3 linked regions of the Homo sapiens genome follow. The protein of the gene in region 1 interacts with the protein of each later gene in a pairwise test. Each region holds a gene or a part of one and is shown on either strand. Other genes may lie near its edges.

The links. The genes of interacting proteins can lie anywhere in the genome.
Region 2: the proteins of CHAF1A (region 1) and NOTO interact in binary tests that used the Homo sapiens proteins (3 or more experiments, as listed by UniProt).
Region 3: the proteins of CHAF1A (region 1) and SERTAD1 interact in binary tests that used the Homo sapiens proteins (3 or more experiments, as listed by UniProt).

The regions. Positions count from the first base shown.
Region 1 is NC_000019.10:4,426,618-4,433,640, reverse strand, and holds part of CHAF1A (chromatin assembly factor 1 subunit A), read right to left. Parts: intron 4,978-7,023; coding exon 4,751-4,977; intron 4,204-4,750; coding exon 4,035-4,203; intron 3,934-4,034; coding exon 3,853-3,933; intron 3,093-3,852; coding exon 3,000-3,092; intron 1,690-2,999; coding exon 1,434-1,689; intron 572-1,433; coding exon 102-571; intron 1-101. UniProt on the Homo sapiens protein: Acts as a component of the histone chaperone complex chromatin assembly factor 1 (CAF-1), which assembles histone octamers onto DNA during replication and repair.
Region 2 is NC_000002.12:73,197,646-73,205,573, reverse strand, and holds the start of NOTO (homeobox protein notochord), read right to left. Parts: upstream 3,001-7,928; 5' UTR 2,908-3,000; coding exon 2,526-2,907; intron 1-2,525. UniProt on the Homo sapiens protein: Transcription regulator acting downstream of both FOXA2 and Brachyury (T) during notochord development. Required for node morphogenesis.
Region 3 is NC_000019.10:40,422,993-40,430,060, forward strand, and holds the start of SERTAD1 (SERTA domain-containing protein 1), read right to left. Parts: upstream 3,001-7,068; 5' UTR 2,875-3,000; intron 555-2,874; coding exon 1-554. UniProt on the Homo sapiens protein: Acts at E2F-responsive promoters as coregulator to integrate signals provided by PHD- and/or bromodomain-containing transcription factors. Stimulates E2F1/TFDP1 transcriptional activity.

The DNA.
Region 1 (7,023 bases):
TGACAGAGCAGGACTCCATCTCGAAAAAAAAACAAAACAACAAAAAACAAACAAAAAAAGAAAAGCCCTGCAGAGGCCCCCACCTGCCCACCCCACCTCACCTGGCCGTCGTGCCTGCGCTTCTTCATGAATTGGGTGATGCACATGCTGCCCGCTGACTTCCTCTTCAGCGAGATGGGAGTGCCCTGGCTGGGCCCCGTGGAGGGGACGCTGCCACTGTCCTCTTTGGGGGCCGAGGGCACCGATGTCACATAGCTCCACTGGCACGGCACGGGCAGGTGCTCCTGCTGGAAGCTCTGTAGCACCTGCGGGTGCACGTACCAGCACATCCTGAAGTCAGGCCGCTTCTCATACACTGAGTTCTCGGAAATGAGCCGCTTGAGCCGGGACTTAGAGGGGATGGCGGCATCCTCGCTGGGGGTGGGGGTGTGCAGGTAGGTGGTGGAGGGGCTCCGCGGGCTGCCGGTGTGGTTGCTGAGCAGTCCCCGGCGGCAGTGCTCCTGGAACTCCCGGATGATGACCTTGCTCCCGTTCACATTGCCGTGCAGGAGCGGCAGCAGCTGGGCCAGGACTGGCAGGAGGGAACATGGGTGGGCATGAGGCTTGGGGAGCCACCCATCACCACAGGCCAAAAAACAAAACACATACACAAGCTCATTGCCACCGAGGCTTGGGGCATGGCCAGCTTCGGGGATAGGTGGCCTCATGAGGGCGGGTGTAAGACAGGGTAGCACCTACGCACCTGCCCAGAAGTGAGCCTTGGCCGGGCACGTGTGTTGCCAGGGCTGACTTCAAATGCCTGCTGTTCCTACCCAAATGACTGCCCTGCTCTCCTTGTGTGCCATGGTCCCTCCCCAGTTTTTTGAGTTTTTTTTTTTTTTTAGACAGGGTCTTGCTCTGTCACCCAGGCTGGAGTGCAGTGGCAGGATCATGGCTCACTGTGGTCTGAAACTCCTAGGCTCAAGCAATCCTCCCACCTCAGCCTCTTGAGTAGCTGGGATCACAGGTGCGTGATACCACACCCAGGTAATTTTGCATTTTCTGCAGAGATGGGGTTTTGCCATGTTGCCCAGGCTGGTGTCGAAGCACTAGGCTCAAGCGATCCTCCCACCTTGGCCTCCCAAAGTGCTGGCATCACAGGCATGAGGCACTGTGCCCGGCCCCTCCCTGGCTTTTGAGAAAGCACAGCCCCCACTCCAGCACTCTCTGTGCCTGTGTCCTGGTTGATAAAACAAGCCAATTAAGGGACCTGCCTCGTCCTGCTGCTAGGGACATCATTGAACGTACGGACATGTACAGGAAAAGGGCTGGCCTCTGTTATTTGTGGAAAGAACATTTGCATCACGGACCCACTAGCCTGTGACTCTTGCCCTCAGCCCTGGAATTAGCTGGGCCCAGGAACAGGTGGGTGGCCTGGCCCCGCCCACACTCACTCTGCTCGTCTCTCCTCTCCCGCTTGGAGGCCTTGGGCGTCTGCTCCTCCTGGGCCGGCAGGGTCTCCAGGAAGCAGGCTGCGAACTGCTGCAGTACCTTCAGGTCATCGCCTGCGCAGTCTCTGTCAGCCGCCCACACGCAGCCGATCTTCACAGGTTGCAGGACGCGAAAGCGCTTCCCCTTAGCCAGGAACTCGTCCCACTCCTTGGCCTTCAGTTTCTGGCGGACCTTATGGTTCTCAGGGTCGGCACACTCCTTGTGGTTTAGAAAGCAGAAGTTTATTTGGGGTTCTTGCTCCCCTATGCCCGGGCACTCTTTTGAGGAACCAGTCCCCAGCCAGCTGGGGAGCAAGAGGAAAGGACAGGGGCACAAAACTTCCCACAGTGTCAGGGCCAGGGCAGAGCACACCATGCGCTGGCTGCCCCTCTTCCAGATGGAATAATTCACACCTGGTCTCCTTTGGGAGCGTCACAGATATTTCTGAACTCACCCATGAGGCCTCTTTTAACACCCCTCTGAATTTTCTGGTGAATGTGTGATCGTGGAGCCGTTTAACAGGGTTGGGTGTCTACCCACATGGCCCAGGCATCTGGCAGACACATGCAGGGCCTGAGACCACTCTCTGACTGACAGTTCAGGCCTCGGTGGTCAGATATGCACAAGGAATGCCTAGGCCTCCAGTCCAACCATGAGACAGTCCCACCAAATCCCCACTTCCCAAACGACAGGCCTTCAAAACAAAACAGGACCAAAAACAACTTGCTTGAAAGCAAGTTCCTGCCGGGCTCGGTGGCTCATGCCTGTAATCCCAGCACTCTGGGAGGCCGAGGCGGGTGGATCACTGGAGGTCAGGAGTTCAAGACCAGCCTGGCCAACATAATGAACTCCCGTCTCTACTAAAAATACAAAAATTAGCCAGGTGTGGTGGCACACGCCTGTAGTCCCAGCTACTTGGGAGGCCGAGGCAGGAGAATTGCTTGAACCCGGGAGGCAGAGGTTGCAGTGAGCCAACACCGGGCCATTGCACTCCAGCCTGGGTAACAGAATGAGAATCCGTCTCAAGAAAAAAAAAAAAAAAGACAGTTCCACAACCTTATGGAATCTGGAAAGGGGTGGCAGGCAGGTTCGCCTGCAGAGACGTGGGCAATCTTCTGGAGAGATAGGGAAGTTCTGTTTTATTTCGGGCGGTGGTTGCCCACATTCACTTGATTGTTACGTCATCAAACTCAACACTTACAATGCACATGTCTTGCTGCATGCTGACTGTATGTCAGCTCGGGTGGTTTCCAGCCTTCTAACCCACAGACCATGGCCACGCTCCCTCACCAGGGTGTCTGCTCCTATGGCTCCCCTCGCTTGCAAGCTCCTCCTACGTCTGCCACCCTCCCAGGTAATACCAAGTTCAGGCCCAGCTGTTCCCACGAGTGAGCTTGCGTGCTTGGAATGCAGTCCAAATCTCGTATGGTTGGGCTGGGACCCCCGTCACCCTCCCAGGTCAGGCCACTGAGCACCAGTCCAGAAATGAACTTTTGCTGAGCCGGTGACCTCCCCCTTCACTCCCTCACCTCTGTCACACCTTCGTCCTCAGACAGGTACCCATGGGGCACAAAGAAACCATCGTCCTCATCTTCATCCTCTCCCATGTCGTCATCATCATCCTCAAAAGGAGAAAAAAAAAAGAGTTCATCAGATAGAAAAGCAGAGTGTGTGCCTTATTAAAAACAAAGTAGGCCAGGCGCAGTGGCTCACACCTCTAATCCCAGCACTTTGGGAGGCTGAGGTGGGCGGATCATCTGAAGTCAGGAGTTTGAGACCAGCCTGGCCAACATGGTAAAACTCTGTCTCTACTAAAAATACAAATCTTGGCTGGGCATGGTGGCACGCACCTATAATCCCAGCTACTAGGGAGGCTGGGGCAGGACTATCACTTGAGCCTGGGAGGCAGAGGTTGCAGTGAGCCGAAATCGCGCCACTGCACTCCAGCCTGAGTGATAGAGTGAGACTCCATCTTAAAGAAACAAAAAAATGTAAAGCTGTGAACATCTGCTTTGCATGGCCTCCCGACAGACACGGTGAGCATCGGCAGAAAGCCCACTAGGTCACAGCAGCTGGGCAGTCAGGAGGAAATGGTGTGCAGCAGGCCCGCAGGAGGCAAGAGGGGGCTGTGGGGCCACGGTGCAGATGCGGACGGGATCCCATCCCCAGCAGCCACGTGGGCGAGTGTCACCAGATGAGATTTTTCGAGAGAAGCTGGAAGTCTGGATGTTGAGGTGCGTTCAGGTTTCAGACCACACAGCAGGTCAAACACCAGCTGTCAGTGAGTGAACACAGCTGGGCTGCATCCTTAGCCCCTCACTGTGGGACAGAGACTCAAACACAAGCCGTCTGTGAGTGAAGACAGCTGGGGCACATCCTTACCCCCTCACTGTGGGACAGGGACTCCCCAGGCTCCTCTTCTTCCCACTCCTCATCACTGTCCACCTCATAGTCCAGGAGCTTCTGAGAAAAGAAACACATGGGACTCACAACTGTCTTTGGGGCTGGAGGAAAGGGGCACAGTGAGGAGGTACGGGGACGGAGGCACTCTGGGGCTAGCTCACCGTGTCCTGGGCCCAGGGGTCTCGCGCGCGGATGAGTGCCGTCTTCTTATTCCAGGTACCCCAGTAGGCAGGCCGGTGGTTCTCACAGAACTGCAGGAGCTTCATCCTGCCAAACTTCCTCCTCTCGGGAACACCGTCGCCCTTCCCACGCTCCACGATGACGACATCACTGAGAAGGAAAACCCCAGGCTCAGGATCACGCTGCCTTACAGACCTGCTCACAAACCTCCCAGGAACCTCCCTGTGAAGCTGGCCTAACAATTCTAGAAAGATGGGCATTTGTTAAAAAGCAGCACTGCCTGTCCCCAAAGAAAGGTCAGGAACATGGACTGAAGGGACAGATGGAGGAGGGTGCAGCCTGCAGGGTGAGAGGGAGGACAGCTGCCCAGGTGCAGCCCCAGAGCATTTTTAGCAAGGGAGGTTCTGTGGAATGAGATTTGCAAGAGCGAGGTGTTGGGGGGTATCCTTCACTGGAGACCAGCAGGGAAATAAGATTCCTCCACGAGGAGCTGGGAAGACAGGGAGAGGAAGACTTCAGGAGCTTACAGGAAGGCCAGGTGGAGAGAGGCCTGAGCCAGCACCGAAGCCCAGGGCCCGAGGGCACTAGGAAGCAAGCAACAGAAGGACCCAGAGCTCCCACCCCGGGGACCCCAGGGTTCAGGATGCTGGCCTCCAGCATCACTAGTGGGTGAAGGCCGACCTCCTCAGGCTCTGACCTGTTAAAAATATCTGCATTCCGGGTGGAAACGTGCGTGGGTCCGGACCTCAGGGGCTGCCGGCCTTTGAGGTCTTTCAAGAAGGAGAACTCGCCGCTCTGCTGCTGGAGGAGCTGGTCCAGCTGACTGCAGAGGTCTGGATGGAAAGCGGTCCGACGCCGAGGGGCCAGGACCATGTGCTCTTTAATTTCAAAGGGGGCAAACTTCCCACAGGAGCCGGCCAGGGTCTGAAATCAAGAAGAGACCCGATGGGGTCTTCGAGCAATGGGAGAAAGGAGGCACCATGGACGCACACAGCAGGGTGCTGGTGGGATTCATCCAGGCTAAGGCCAAGGCACAGACTCAAAAGCCCAGGCACTGTGTGGGTCCACAGAGCCGAGTTTCCAGAGCTACAGGGCAGAGGGCAGATTGGCAGTCTCAAGGGCCGGCGGTGGGGGGACAGACTACAAGGGAGCTGTTTTGAGTGATGGAAATAGGGTTTATCTTCATTATGGTTAGCTGGCCCTGTCATTTGTCAACACAAATGTCCTGAAAAGAGTTTATTTTATTGGATGTAAATTATATCTCAACAAACCTCACTTAAAAAAAAAAAAAAAAAAGGCCGGGGGCAGTGGCTCATGCCTGTAATCCCACCACTTTGGGAGGCTGAGGAGGGCGGATCACCTGAGGTCAGGAGTTCGAGACCAGCCTGCCCAACATGGTGAAACCCCATCTCTACTAAAAACAAAAATTAGGCCAGGGGCAGTGGCTCATGCCTGTAATCCCACCATTTTGGGAGGCGGAGGAAGGCGGATCACCTGAGGTCAGGAGTTCGAGACCAGCCTGCCCAACATGGTGAAACCCCATCTCTACTAAAAACAAAAATTAGGCCAGGGGCAGTGGCTCATGCCTGTAATCCCACCACTTTGGGAGGCTGAGGAGGGCGGATCACCTGAGGTCAGGAGTTCGAGACCAGCCTGGCCAAGATGGTGAAACCCCGTCTCTACTAAAAATACAAAAATTAGGCCAGGCGCGGTGGCTCACGCCTGTAATTGTAGCGCTTTGGGAGGCCGAGGCGGGTGGATTGTCTGAGCTCAGGAGTTCGAGACCAGCCTGGGCAACACAGTGAAACCCGGTCTCTACTAAAATACAAAAAATTAGCCGGGCACGGTGGCATGCACCTGTAGTCCCAGCTACTTGGGAGCCTGAGGCAGGAGAATTGCTTGAACCTGGGAGGCAGAGGTTGCAGTGAGCTGAGATCGTGCCACTGCACTCCAGCCTGGGGGATAGAGCAAGACTCCATCTCAAAAACAAAACAAAACAAAACAAAAATTAGCTTGGCATGGTGGTGGGCACCTGTAGTCCCAGCTACTCAGGAGGCTGAGGCGGGAGAATCGTTTGGATCTGGGAGGCAGAGGTTGCAGTGAGCCCAGATCACGCCACTGTACTCTAGCCTGGGCCTGAGGCAGGAGAATTGCTTGAACCTGGGAGGCAGAGGTTGCAGTGAGCCGAGATCGTGCCACTGCACCACTCCAACCTGGGGGATAGAGCAAGACTCCATCTCAAAAACAAAACAAAACAAAACAAAACAAAAATTAGCTTGGCATGGTGGTGGGCACCTGTAGTCCCAGCTACTCAGGAGGCTGAGGCAGGAGAATCGTTTGGATCTGGGAGGCAGAGGTTGCAGTGAGCCCAGATCACGCCACTGTACTCTAGCCTGGGCAACAGAGCAAGACTCCTTCTCAAAAAAAAAAAAAAAAAAAAAAAAAAAAAAAGACAGGGTCTTTTTTTGAAAGATCACAACTCCTCTTTTTTTTTTCTGAGATGGAGTCTCGCTTCATTGCGCAGCCTGGAGTACAGTGGTGCAATCTCGGCTCACTGCAACCTCTGCCTCCTGGGTTGGGCGATTCTCCTGCCTCAGCCTCATGAGCAGCTGGGATTACAGACGCCTACCACCACGCCCGGCTAATTTTTGTATTTTTAGTATTTTTAGTAGAGACACCTTGTTGGCCAGGCTGGTCTCAAGCTCCTGACCTCAGATGATTCACCCGCCTTGGCCTCCCCAAATGCTGAGATTACAGGCATAAGCCACCGCACCTGGCCAAAAGGAGAAATTTCAGTATAATGAAAGACACTGTAGCTGGGCGTGGTGGCTCACACCTGTAATCCCAGCACTTTGGGAGGCCGAGGTAGGCGGATCACCTGAGGTCAGTAGTTCAAGACAAGCCTGACCAACATGGAAAAACCCCGTCTCTACTAAAAATACAAAATTAGCTGGGCGTGGCAGCACATGC
Region 2 (7,928 bases), on another chromosome or scaffold:
AAAGTCAAAGGCCAATACACAGAAAAACATTTGTAGTTCATTACAGTTAAAGGGCTAATTTCTTTTTTAATTTTTTGAGACAGTGTCTTGTTCTGTTGCCCAGGCTGGAGTTCAGTGGCTTGACCTCGGCTCACTGCAACCTCTGCCTCCCAGGCACAAGCAATCCTCCCACTTCAGCCCCCGCCAAGGTGCGCACCACCATGCCCAGCTAATTTTTGTGTTTTTAGTAGAGACGGGGTTTTGCCATGTTGCCCAGGCTGGTCTCAACTCCTGAGCTGAAGTAGTCCACCCGCCTTGGCCTCCCAAAGTGAGGGAGTTACAGGGGTGAGCCACTGCACCCAGCCAGGGCTAATTTCCTCAATAGAAAAGAGCATCTACAAATAGATTGTTTTAAATAACCAACTATACATATGGGCAAAATACAAGAACAGTAGTTCACAGAAAAAGAAATACATCACGAGGTCAGGAGATCAAGACCATCCTGGCTAACATGGTGAAACCCCGTCTCTACTAAAAATACAAAAAATTAGCCAGGTGTGGCGGCATGTGCCTGCAGTACCAGCTACTCGGGAGGCTGAGGCAGGAGAATGGCGTGAACCCGGGAGGCGGAGCTTGCAGTGAGCCGAGATTGCACCACTGCACTCCAGCCTAAGGACAGAGCAAGACTCCGCCTCAAAAAAAAAAAATAAAAAAATAAAAAAAATTAGCCGGGCATGGTGCTGGGGCTTGTAATTCCAGCCACTCCAGAGGCTAAGGCAGGAGAATCACTTGAGACCGGAAGGAGGAGGTTGTAGTGAGCAGAGATAGCGCCACTGCACTCCAGCCTGGGAGACAGAGTGAGACTCCGTCTCAAAACAAAACAAAACAGAACAAAAGAAAACAACTAACTTGAAAATGAGGCAACTGTAACATGAAGTAGTAAACTGTAATTCAGACCTCAGGTGTGTGAAGAGCTCAGAGAAAGGTGACTGGGAGTGATGGGCACAGCTCCCAGATCCAGTGGTATTGAATTTAGATGGGGCTGCGAGTCCAAGGGTTAATGCACTGCTGAAATGGGGTGAGGAAATGCAGGATTGGGGTGGGTGCCACGGAGTAGGAACCCGGCAAGACTGTGTTACAACTATCTTTGTATGGGTTGATAAGGCTTGGACTAACTTTGCTCCTGTTTTCTTCGTGGGGACATGGGGAAACATGAACCTGGCAACCAAAAATGGCAAAAGCACGTGTAGGTGGATGTTTAATGCTAGAAGGCAAAGTTCCCTCTATAGTTACTTTTTTTTGTTGATTTGTTTGTTTGAGACGGAGTCTCACTCTGTTGCCCAGGCTAGAGTGCAGTGGCGCAATCTCGGCTTAATGCAACCTCAACCTCCCGGGTTCAAGTGATTCTCCTGCTTTAGCCTCCTGAGTAGCTGGGATTACAAGCGCGCGCCACCACGCCCTCCTAATTTTTTGTCTTTTTTTTTTTTTTTTTTTTTGAGACGGAGTTTCGCTCTGTCGCCCAGGCTGGAGTGCAGTGGCGCGATCTCGACTCACTGCAAGCTCCGCCTCCCGGGTTCACGCCATTCTCCTGCCTCAGCCTCCTGTGTAGCTGGGACTACAGGCACGCGCCACCATGCCCGGCTAATTTTTGTATTTTTAGTAGAGACGGGGTTTCACCGTGTTAGCCAGGATGGTCTCGATCTCCTGACCTCGTGATCCGCCCGTCTCGGCCTCCCAAAGTGCTGGGATTACAGGCGTGAGCCACCGCGCCCGGCCAATTTTTTGTCTTTTAAGTAAAGATGTGGTTTCACCATGTTGGCCAGGCTGGCCTTGAACTCCTGACTTCAGGTGATCCACCCGCCTCGGTCTTCCAAAGTGCTGAAATTACAGGCGTGAGCCACCGCGCCCAACCTTACAATTACTTTCTCATGAGATTTAAGTGCCTGGCCCTTAAGCACTACTTAAGAGCATTGCATGCACGCAGGCTCAGAGCGAAGTGTGTAGCTCAAGTTCACAGACGTGAGCAGTGGAGGCGGTAGTGGGGTGTGAGCCTTGACCAGCTCCTAACAGCTCCTCGCTCAACAGCACCGCCCGGAGCGTCCACTTCCCCCTACCCCGTAAAAAAAAAAAACAGGGCCATTGGTTCGGGTCGAGAGCCGCTTTGGGAAGCGTCTCTGTCACTAAGCGCTACCCCGGGGTGTGCGAGGGAGTCAAGGGACGCGGAGACCGGGAGCAGGGCTGGGTCCCCTTGCAGCCCCAGCGCTGGCCTCCTGCCCACCGCATTCAGGCGCTGCGCCGCCCTCACACCCACCCTCTCCCACCTCAGCAGCGTGCGGGGGAAGCCTCGCGCCGGGGTCTTTTTCAGCAAGACTGTCGCGGTCCTCGGCTTCAACTGCAAGGTAAACGGTGGCAGAGCCCCTTCCCACTCCAGCCGTGTGTGATTCTCACACTCAGTGCCCTCTCCTGCACTGGGGCGCCGGCAGTGGCGACCTAGGCTCTCCAGCCCCCGCCCAGTCCCCCGCGTGCGGGCGCCGGGACCGCAGTACCTGTGACGCCGAAGCCCAGCAGGCCGCAGACGGGAGCCACGCGCGGCCCTGGCACAGGGTAAAAACCTACGCTCAGGTAGGCGGGCAGCCACGATGTCGGGCAAGCCCAGGGCAGACCCCCGGTGGCGCACAGGGAAGCAGCGGTCCAGAAGGCCGGGTGGACGCAGGCGGAGCCCGACGGCTGGGAGGCCGCCGGCGCGCAGGGGTCGGGCCTCGCCAGGATGGCCTCGACCGAGAAAGGGGACTCGAAGCGTCCGGGAGCGCGGGGCGTGTTCGGGCCAGTAGGGGACCTGGGCGCCGGAGAGCGGCCAGAGCGCGGAGGTCGGACCCGAGAGCCCGAGGGAGCGGGTGGCGGGCTGCCTCGCGGCCTGGGGCTAGGCATGACGCGGCCGTTGCCCGGACGGACGCAAGGAAGGGAGCTCGGGAGAAGTGAGAAGATTCTGCAAAAGGCAGCGAGCAAGACCGGTTGTCTGGGAACCTCCTGGCGCTCGGCGAAGGCTCTTAAATTTGGCGGGGCGGGGCATGGGGCGGCCTCTCCCCACTGCGGTCCGGGCGGGGCCCCCAAAGCCTGTGAGCGCCCGCTCTGTGCGAGGCAAGGTGGGCACAGCACCAAAGAGTGTGTTCCCTCCCTTCCTCCGCTTTTAAAAATGCCCACCCTGGGGCGGTCGTGGGGAGGACTCTGAGCTCGCTGGTGATCCTGGGCGAAACACCCAGCCACCGGGCTCCGTCTTTCTCCTTTGCTCACTGAAGAAGGGATGCCCGTTTCCCCGGGGCCTTGCAGAGGCGGAGCTGTGATCTGGAGAGCGGTAGGGCAGTGCCTGCGGTCTTGGCCTCAGCTGACCCGCGCCGTCCTTGACGCAGAAGCCTCGGCCAGATTCACCTAGGACCGCGCGGACTTTTTGTTTGTTTGTTTTAAAATGTAAATATTTTATTTATAAGCACAGTGATAAGTACATTTTCCATCTGGCCTCAGCCCTTTAGTTTCCCTGCCTTGAGATGCGCTGTGATTACCAATTTCGTTCTTTCTTTAATATTTTTTTTGGCCAGGTGCAGTGGCTCATGCCTGGCATCCCAGTACTTGTGTGGGAGGCCGAGGCGGGAGGATCGCTTGAGCTCAGGATTTGATTTGATTTGATTTGAGTTGATTTAGGGGTAAAAGATATGGCCACTATGTCTCTAACCTTGGACTTTTAGTATATAATTCTGTGTTTCCATACATAATTATCAGTTTTCTGTTGTGTCATTTATTCCTTCTTCAGACTGTAAATTCCTGAGCATAAGCATTAATATCTCCAATTTACATATTAGTAAATACAGCAAGAGAGGTTAACAGAACTGCCTTGTTTCAAATCCCCTAGGTATGTGGTTTTAATTTGCATTTATTTCCCTGAAGACCGTTCATTGTGAGCATCTTTTTACATGCTTATCAGCCACTTGGATATCCTCTTTTGTGTGAAGTGCCTGTTCAACTGGTTTGCTTATTTTTGTATTGGGTCACTATGTTTTTCTTATTGTAAGAGTTTTATGTATAGATAATTTGGAATCAAGTCCTTCGTTGTAATATACATAGAAGCAGATAACCTCTGTCACTCTGTGGCCTGCCTTTTCATTCTTTTAGTAGTCCTTTTTTTTTTTTTTTCTGAGATGGAGTTGCCCAGGCTAGAGTGCAGTGGCACAATCTTGGCTCACTGCAACCTTTGCCTCCCAGGTTCCAGCGATTTTCCTGCTTCAGTAGCTGGGATTACAGGCATGTGCCACCACACCCAGCTAATTTTTGTTAAGTATACCAAAAATAAAGCCAAACGAATAACAGACTTTATTTTTATTCATTTATTTATTTATTTAGAGATGGAGTTTCACTCTTGTTGCCCAGGCTGGAGTGCAATGGCACTCGGCTCACTGCAACCTCTGCCTCCTGGGTTCAAGCGATTCTCCTGCCCCAGCCTCCTGAGTAGCTGGGATTACAGGCACCCGCCACCATGCCCAGCTAATTTTTTGTATTTTTAGTAGAGATGGGGTTTCACCATGTTGTCCAGGCTGGTCTTGAACTCCTGACCTCAGGTGATCCACCCGCCTTGGCCTCCCAAAGTGCTGGGATTACAGGCGTAAGCCACCGCACCCAGCCCTACAACAGACTTTAAAAAGACCACTGAGATGGGTTAGTACATGAACTAGGCACTTTATAAAAGGAAATATCTGAATAGCTTAAAACCATATGTGGCTGGGCGCGGTGGCCCATGCCTGTAATCCCAGCACTTTGGGAGGCCAAGGCGGGCAGATCACTTGAGGTCAGGAGTTTGAGACCAGCCTGGCTAACATGGTGAAACCCCATCTCTACTAAAAATACAAAAACTAGCTGGGTGTTGTGGTGGGTGCCTGTAATCTCAGCTACTCGGAGGCTGAGGCAGGAGAATTGCTTGAACCTGGGAGGCGGAGGTTGCAGTGAGCCAAGACTGCACCACTGCACTCCAGCCTGGGCGAAAGAGCGAGACTCTGTCTCAAAAAAAAAAAAAGTATGAAACATACTGAACTCTGTGAGTCATCAGGGAAATGCAAATTCAAATCACATCGTGATCCACTATACACGCACCAGAAGATGGAAAATACCAAGGGCTGGCTGGGCACGGTGGCTCACACCTGTAAATCCCAGCACTTTAGGAGGCCAAGGCAGGTGTGAGGCTGAGGCGGGTGGATCACTTGAGGTCAGGAGTTCGAGACCAGCCTGACCAACATCGTGAAACCCCATCTCTACTAAAAATACAAAATTAGCCAGGTGTGGTGGTGCACACCTATAATCCCAGCTACCTGGGAGGCTGAGTCAGGAGAATCGCTTGAGCCTGGGAGGCGGAGGTTGTAGTGAGCCATTGCACTCCAGCCTGGGCAACAAGAGCAAAACTCTGTCTCAAAAAAAAAAAAAAAAAGAAAAAGAAAAAGAAAAAGAAAAAGAAAATACCGAGGGTTGATGATAATATGAAGCATCTGGAACTCTTATCCACTGAGTGTGGGCATATAAATTGGTAGAAACACTTTCGAAAAATGGATAAGCAGTATTTACTTAAGCTTAACCCTCTGATCCAGCAGTTCCTATCCTAGGTATAGTGTATACCCAACACAAATATACATATGTGTTTAACAAGAGACATGTTTCAGAATGTTCACAGCAGCATTATTTGCAATAGCCCCAAATCAGAAACTACCAGAATGTCTACCAACAGTAGAATAAAGTTGCGCCACTGCACTCCAGCCTGGGTGACAGAGTGAGACTCTTGTCTCAAAAAAATAAAAAAATAAAAAAACAAGGCAAACTTATCTATGCTACTAGAAGTCAGGAGAATGCTTGGGGGTGGTTAATGAGTGGCAAAGGGCATGACGGGAACTTCTGTGGTGGTAGCAGTGTTCTATTTATTTTCTTTTTTTTTGAGATTGAATTTCACTATTGTTGCCCAGACTGGAGTGCAGTAGCATGATCTTGGCTCATTGCAACCTCTGCCTCCCAGTTCAAACGATTCTCCTGCCTCAGCCTCCCAAGTAGCTGGGATTACAGGCATGTGCCACCATGCCGAGCAAATTTTGTATTTTTAATAGAGACAGGGTTTCACCATGTTGGTCAGGCTGGCTGGTCTCAAACTCCTGACCTTGGGTGATCCACCCGCCTCAGCCTCCCAAAGTGCTGGGATTACAGATGTGAGCCACCGTGCCCGGCCAGTGTTCTATTTCTTCATCTGGATGCTGGTTACACAGATCTTTATACTTTGTGAAAATTCAGTGCCCACTTGTTCCTGGTCTGGACCATTATCAGTCCTTCCTTTATTTAGTTGTAGTTTTGCTATTGATTTTAATCACAGGATATGGAAATACCATGTTGTTCCCATTATCCCCCTGACAGTCAGGATCAGTCACCCAGAGAGTCTGATAATACTCTTCAGTGCCTATTGATTCACTGGTGAGAGAAGCCCAAGTAGCCAGCGACAGTCTTAACTGCCAGTTCAGTGAAACCACTGCTGTGTCTCATGTGGAAATAGTTCACTCTTGGGAACTCTAGTATCTCTAGATCAGCAGAGCACAAAGTTACCGAGATAGGAAGCAAAAATTTTGCTAGAGAAACACTATGTGTTATATTGAGGAGATCTGTTCTCATTTCTACCCTCTGACCCACAAATCCTGGTTTGGGATTTCTCCCAGCACCATATGTTGGTTGCCGGTTTAGAGCACATCTTGCATCTGAAGGACATTACCCATGCCCTGCAACATGTTACTATCCAGCTAGTGCCATAATTAAGTCTTCAAAAGGTCATCCTACTGTTCTTTCAAGCCAGCTGCTTCAGGGTAATGGTAAGACCAGTGAATACCATGAGCCTGAGCCCATTGCTGTTCTTTACTTGCTGTGAAATAATTCTTTTGTCAGAAGCAATGCTATATGGAATGCCAAAGCATTCTATAAGTTCAGAGATGTTGATTTTGGCAGAAGCATTGTGGGCAGAGAAAGCAAATCTATGTCACAGTAAATGGATATTCCAGTAAGAACAAAGTAATGCCCCTATGTGATTACCCTGGCACTAGGTGGCTAGTTGGTTTTCATATTGGGGGCTCAGTGTTGGTCTCTGCTGTTGGCAGGTTGGGCACTCAGCAATGGCTGTAGTCAGATTGGTTTTAGGGAATGGAAATCCATGTTACTAAGCCCCTGTCCAACCTCCATCCCTCTCGCCATGTTCACATTTTTCATGAGCCATTATGGTAACCACACCTACTTGTCACATCATCCCCATTGAATTTTGGGAGCCCAGCTTGATAGCATAAGTTCCCTCCGTCATTTCGGGCCTACAGAGAATAGCCACCATCGAGTTCTTCAAGGATATCAGGGCTTTCCTCTTGAATGCATTTCTCATAGGCTTGATGAAGGAAGTGTCTTCTAGAACTAACCTGGGCACATATTACAGGGGCAGGTAAATAGGTCTTCCATGGCAAGTCTACCCTAGCATTCTAGCCTTCCTTAGCCATTTGATACCTCTTCTACAGTGTGCCAACTTCATCTAGAAGTTGATATCAACCAACTGAACAAACTGTTAGACTCACTCAAGCTAGGACATTGAATCAGGAATCTCTGCTTAGTTGGCCCTTATAAATAGATTCAGCCTAATATGACTTTATATTTCTTCTGTCCTCATCTCACACCTTTGGGATCCATGTCCATACATTTCCCCAGGTTTCTGTATATGTAAATTGGCAACATCATGAAATTGTTTTGGTGTGTATCATACCACTGTCTCATGGGAAAGGCTTTGTACTTCATTCTCTGTAGCCTGTTTGAACTTGAGTCTACCAGCAATGAGAGGCAGTGGAGGTAAATCCAGAGGGCCACCACTTCAAGGAAGGCCATTACAAGACCTTCAGGCAAGGGGAGAT
Region 3 (7,068 bases), about 36 Mb from region 1:
TCATTGTCATACATAGAGGTGTCAATATCCTCAAACAGGCCCTCAAGCCCATCGTCCAGTAGACAGCCAGTGGCTGGGCCCAGCAGGTCCAAGGCACCCAGGCTGGGCGCTGCTCCCCCGATGCTACGGCCTGGTGGCCCCTCGTCTGCCAAGGGTTGGGGAGCCTGACTCAGGCCCTCAATGTGGCTGAGGTCCTCCAGGAGGCTGGCCATGGAGGCTGAAAGGGCAGCGTCCGAGCTTGCCAGTAAGTTGTCAGCCACACTGGGGGCTGCAGGTGGGCTAGGCACAGGTGGCAGGGCAGCCGCGGGTGCCATGGACGCCTGGATGCGCCGCAGAGTGTTCACGACCAGCACCAGGTGCCGCAGGTCCGGCTCACTCTGCTGCAGGCTGTGGTGGAGCTTGAGCACTGAGAGGTCAAAGAGGGAGCTAGAGGCCACGGCCGGGGGTGCCTGTGCCACCGCTGTGTGGCCAGGATCTAGCCACCAGGAGTCGACTGCCAGAGGTTCCTTCTCCTCCTCCTCCTCCCGTTTCCGCTTCAGACCCTTGCTCAGCATCTGCAGAGGGCAGGGAGTTATGGAGTTATAGTCAGTTATAGAAAACAAATGTTAAGTTCAAAGCCTGGATCTGACAGTTGCTGCAGGTAGGATCTTGGGGAAGTCACTTAACCTCTCTGTGCCTAGCTTTTCTTAGGGAACTTTAAAGATATAGACAATTTTTATTTAACTGTATATGTATATTTATAGATTTTTTTTGAGATGGAGTCTCGCTCTGTTGCCCAGGCTGGAGTGTAATGCCGTGATCTCAGCTCATTGCAACCTCTGCCTCACAGGTTCAAATGATTCTCGTGCCTCAGCCTCCCCAAAAGCTAGGATTACAGGCACATGCCACCACACCCGGCTAATTTTTATATTTTTAGAAGAAGCATGGTTTCACCATGTTGGCCAGGCTGGTCTCGACCTCCTGGACCTCAAGTGATCCGCCCACCTCTGCCTCACAAAGTGCTGGGATTACATGCGTGAGCCACCGCGCCTGGCCTATAGACTTCTTAAATTTTAAATTTTATATTTAAGTATATTTATAGACTTTTTTATCTGAAAAAATAAAGATGGGGTCTCACTATATTGCCCAGGCTGGTCTCAAACTCCTGGCCTGAAGCGATCCTCCCCCCTCAGTCAATAAGTACTTTTTTTTTTCCCTTTTATTTTTTTGTAGAGACATGGTCTCACTATGTTGCCCAGGGTGGTCTCAAACTCCTTGCCTCAAGCCATCCTCCTTCCTCAGCCTCCCAAAGTACTGAGATTACAAGTGTGAGCTGCCTCACCCTGCCAATAAGTACACTTAATGATAACATTATTATTTCTTCAGTGAACCATGTGGAATGGCCAATATTCAACTTTTTCCCCTACAAAAGCAGCTGTTTCACATATTTTATTATAATAACATAATTATATCTAAATAAGTTATAATATTATAAATACTAAACTAGTTTCACGTAGTTTAATATTTATTGTCTACTATGACTATGTTTCAAACAGTAAATAAATAAGGAAACACAGGAAATGTACAGAGAATTACAGGAAGACACTAAAAGTTCCTAGAGACCTTTTAGATCATCAGAGAAGGCTCCTGTAAGGAGGTGACATTTGAATGGAGCCCTCAGGCCAGAGAAGTCAGCCATGGGAGACCCTGGGAAAAGCATTCCGGGAGGAGGGAACAACAAAAAAAGGCAGAGAAAAGCCCAGAGGCTGGATGGGCTTGAACTGGAAAGAGACCAGCATGGGTGGCACACAGAGAGTGACATGGTAGGAGACCAGATTGGGGAGCAGCTAGGGGAACGGGCACAAGCCAGGTCACAGAAAGCCACATATGCAGAAGTAGGGAGTTTGGATTTTATCCTGAGTGTGGTGGGCAGTCATTAAAGGAATTTGAGCAGGGAGGGAATGGTGCTGTGAGCTGATTAGGTTTCCGGAAGATCCCCCCCATGGCTGCTTCGAGGAAGACTGTGGGGGGCAAAAAGAGGGGGGATCTGAGACCCACTGGTAGGCTGTACTCGTTTGGGACGGACGATGGTGATGGCCTGGAGTAGGAGCTGGTAGTGGCATGGAAGGAAGTCGGTCGAGTCAGGACTTATTTGGGAGGCAGAATAGACAGGGCTTGTCGGGAAATCGTGATCGGCACCGGGTTCAGTCACTGAGATAAGTTTGAGGGTCCACTGTTCTTGGAGTGGCGGGGGTAGGGCTGGAGTTTTGGACTCCTGGCGCTACCTACTTTTTTGGGCCAGGAAGACTGTAGAGTCCAGTTTCGGAACCCTGCCTAGCAAGATTTTAAGAATGGCCCACCACACTACTCAAAACAGGGTCTTCGTCCCCTTCCCCGCAGTCCGGGGAGTCCGGAACCGCAGGAATTCCGCCCCCACCCCCGACTCCGCCCCCGGGTCCCGGCGCCCCCTAGCGGTGCCCAGGCCGGCTTTCCCCCGGGGATTCTGGCCCCTCTGACCCCAGGACCCCTTCTACTGCCCCGATTCCCGGCTGTGATTCCTGCCGGCCTCCCGGCGCCGTGCGAGCCGGGACCCCTGGCGGGCTGTTCTCTGCGCCCGGCCTCCGCTCGCTTCCGGCAGTGGAGGCGGCTCCTCCCGAAGCGGCGGCGGCGGGGGCGGGTGAGTCACGCAGCCGGAGCCAAGAAGCCGGCGCCTCCGCCCCCTTCTCGGACTGCGGCGTGATTCACCCGGCCCGGCCGGGGCAGACAGCACGTAGAGGTCCGTGCGTCTCGATCCCGGGCAGCCCCGGCGGGCACCTGTCGGACCCAGGGATCGAACTCTGTGAAGGACCCGGCCGCTGGTAGCCCTTCTGTTCCCAGGCCCCTTCATTTACATACCTTGCTCACTAGCGGCCAATCAGAACGAAGAGGTAGCCACCCACAACCAATCAGGAAACGGCGGCGGCAGCATCGCTTGTTGGCTGTCCTCCGGAAACCCGCGCCTGGGTCGCGAGACGCAGTTCTGACTCCGGCTCACGACTCCAGACTCCTAACTACCCTTAGCGACCGCCCACTCTCGTGGCTGCCCCGCCCTCCGCCCCAGGGATTGGCCCTGCATGGTGATGGGCGGAGCTTGTAGGGGGCGGATTCTGAAGGAGGGGCTTCAGGGCGCATGCCCGGGCAGCTGCGCGAGTGAGGGGTGGAAAGAGGTGGCTTTTTACTCCGGGGAACGGTGGCGAGTGGGGGCTTTTGCCTCTCAAAATACGAGCCCCTCACAACTACCCATGCACCTGCCAAACCCGGCAATTAAGCTTCTTACACATCCAGCCCCGACAGGGGTCTACACTACAGATAATGCCCGGGTTCAAATTCCGACTCCGGATTCCCCACTCACTGGATGCGTGACCTTGGAAAAATGATCAACCTCTTCAAGCTACACAAAGTTAAATGGGGATCGTCTTGCCTACCTCTTGACAGGATACTTTAAGTAGGATCGTATCTATAAGAACACAATACCACACTCAAGCAATGCTGGACAGTTGGACTTAATTGTGGTTAAAGGCGGGAGTGAGGTGGGAGTGCGATACCAACGGAATCACATCCCGGGCTCCATTCCCTAAGCAGCTGTGTGACCTGCGGCAAGTGTTTTAATCCCTTCTGGTCTGTTTCTCCTTTAAAATGAGAGAAAATAGCGCCTAGTTTACAGGATTGTTTTTAAGGATTAAATTAATTCATGAAAAATCTTCAGAGTGGGGTGCAACATGTTTTGTGTTTTTTTTTTTTTTTTCATTTTATTTATTTATTTATTTATTTATTTGAGACAGATTCTCACTCCGTCGCCCAGGCTGGAGTGCAGGGGCACGATCTCGGTTCACTGTAACCTCCGCCTCCCAGGTTCAAGCAATTATCCTGCCTCAGCCTCCCGAGTAGCTGGGACTACAGGCGTGCGCCACCACGCCCGGTTAATTTTTGTATTTTTAGTAGAGATGGGGTTTCACCATGTTAGCCAGGCAGGTCTCAAACTCCTCACCTCAGGTGATCCGCCCTCCTCGGCCCCTGAGTGTTGGGATTACAGGCGTGAGCTACCGCGCCCAGCTGCTTATTATTTTTTTCTTTACTTTTTATTTTATTTTATTTTGCTTTTGAGACAGGGTCTCGCTCTGTCACCCAGGCTGAAGTGCAGGGGTGCCATCTCGGCTCACTGCAGCCTCCCAGGTTCAAGCCATCCTCCTGCCTCAGACCCCCAAGCAGCTGGGACTACAGGCGCACACCACCATGCCTGGTTAGCAACGTTGTTTCTTTGTTAGTAGTAATAGCTGTTGTAATAAGACAAGCTCTTAGTTCAAGGTGGATAGACATGCAGGATGGGGCTAGAGGTAGACAGGGTATAATACTCCTCCCATGGCCGGATGCAGTGGCTCACGCCTGAATACTCTCTCACCTAGATTTAATTGATAGTTGTTAGCTAGGCAACAACTGTAATCCAGTACTTTGGGAGGCCAAGGCAGGAGGGTCACTTGAGTCCAGGAGTTCACTTGAGTCCAGCCTGGGCAACACAGTGAGATCTCATCACTACAAAAAAATTTAAGAATTAGCCAGGCGTGGGCCGGGCGTGGTGGCTCACGCCTGTAATCTCAGCATTTTGGGAGGCCGAGGTGGGCAGATCACGAGGTCAGGAGTTCGAGACCAGCCTGGCCAACATGGTAAAACCCTGTCTCTACTAAAAATACAAAAAATCAGCCAGGTGTGGTGGCAGGCGCCTGTAATCCCAGCTACTCAGGAGGCTGAGGCAGGAGAATAGCTTGAACCCAGGAGGCAGAGGTTGCAGTGATCCAAGACAGCGCCACTGCACTCCAGACTGGGCAACAGAGCAAGACTCTGTCTCAAAAAAAAAAAAAAAAAAGGATTAGCCAGGCGTGGTAGCATGTTCTTGTGGTCCCAGCTGCTTGTGGGGCTAAGGTGGGAGGATTCCTTGAGCCCAGGAGGTCAAGGCTGCAGTGAGCCATGTTCATGCCGCTGCACTCTAGTCTGAGTAACAGAACAAGACCCTGTATCAAAAAAAAAAAAAAAGAAAAAAGTAGTAGTTGGTAACATTGTGCTAAGTTCCCTTTATCTACATATGTGTATATATTGTTTCTTTTGCTAAACCTTTGGAGAGTAATTGCAAGCATCTTGATATTCTACCCTTAACAGCTCAGGAGGCATCTCTTAAGAATAAGGACATTAGGCCCTGTGCGTTGGCTCACACCTGTAATCCCAGCACTTTGGGAGGCTAAGGCGAGTGGATCACCGGAGGTCAGGAGTTCGAGACCAGGCTAACCAATATGATGAAACCCCGTCTCTACTAATAATACAAAAATTAGCCGGGCATGGTGGCATGTGCCTGTAATCCCAGCTACTCAGGAGGCTGAGACAGGAGAATTGCTTGAACCCAGGAGGTGGAGGTTGCAGTGAGCTGAGATTGCGTCATTGCACTCCAGCCTGGGCAACAAGAGCAAACTCCACCTAAAAAAAAAAAAGAATAAGGACATTCATGTACAAGCCACAAAAATACTATTTCACATCTAATAGAATCAAGAATTCCACAATATCACCTAATCAAATCTCTCCAACTGACCCAAGAATATCCTTTATAGTTGCTTTCTTTTCTCCAAAATCAGGATCCAATGAAGGTTCACATGCTAATTTGGTTGTAATGAAGAAATTACATACTATATTTTATTCTCGAATATTCCCCCACCCAAATCCCTTTTTTTTTTTTTTTTTTTTTTGAGACAGAGTCTTGCTCTGTCGCCCAGGCTGGAGTGCAGTGGCATGATCTTGGCTCACTGCAACCTCCATTTCCGGGTTAAAGTGATTCTCCTGCCTCAGCCTCCCGAGTAGCTGGGATTATTGGCGTGCGCCACCACGCCTGGCTAATTTTCTTGTGTTTTTAGTAGAGACAGGGTTTCGCCATGTTGGCCAGGCTGGTCTCAAACTCCTGACCTCAGGTGATCCACCCGCTTTGGCCTCCCAAAGTGCTGGGATTACAGGCATGAGCCACCACACTCAGCCTCAAATCCTTTTTGATGTTTTGTTGACATTGAATTTCTGGCAAAACAGACTAGTCATGCTGCATAGTGTCCCACATTCTGGATTTGTCTGACTGTGTTTAATTTGTTCCTCTCTTTTTCCAATAAGCTGGAGGTTGGGTCTAGGGGCCTGGTGAGATTCTGCTTATGCAGTGAACAGGGAGACTCCACAGGGTGTGTCCTAATCCTTATTAATGTACTTCCTAATCCTAACGCATTATAGTAGTTGGCACCAGTGTCAGGATGTCCCACCATTGGTAATGCAGAGTTTCATCACGTGATTAAGATTGTGAGGGTTACATCGTAAAATAAATTTATCCTTTCTAGTTAGCAAATAACCTTTGGGATGATGCTTTAGAGCCTGTGAAGATCCTATCTCCAAGATGTATGTGGTGGCTCATGCCTGTAATGCTGGCACTTTGGGAGGCCAAGGCGGGAACTTAAGCCCAGGAGGTTTTGTGATTTTTTTTTTTTTTTTTTTGAGACGGAGTCTCACTTTGTCGCCCAGGCTGGAGTGCAGTGGCACGATCTCGGCTCACTGCAAGCTCCGCCTCCTGGGTTCATGCCATTCTCCTGCCTCAGCCTCCTGAATAGCTGGGACTACAGGTGCCCGCCACCTCGCCCGGCTAATTTTTTTTCCTTTTTTTTTTTTTTGTATTTTTAGTAGAGACGGGGTTTCACCATGTTAGCCAGGATGGTCTCAATCTCCTGACCTCGTGATCCGCCCGCCTTTGCCTCCCAAAGTGCTGGGATTACAGGCGTGAGCCACCGCACTTGGCCAGTTTTTTTTTTTTTTTTTTTTTTTTTTGAGATGGAGTCTTGCTCTGTCGCCCAGGCTGGTGTGTAATGGCGTGGTCTTGGCTCACTTCAACTTCCGCCTCCCGGGTTCAAGGATTCTCCTGCCTCAGCCTCCTGAGTAGCTAGGATACAGGTGCATGCCACTATGCCTGGCTAATTTTTGTATGTTTAGTAGAGACAGGGTTTCACCATGTTAGCCAGGCTGGCCTCAAACTCCTGACCT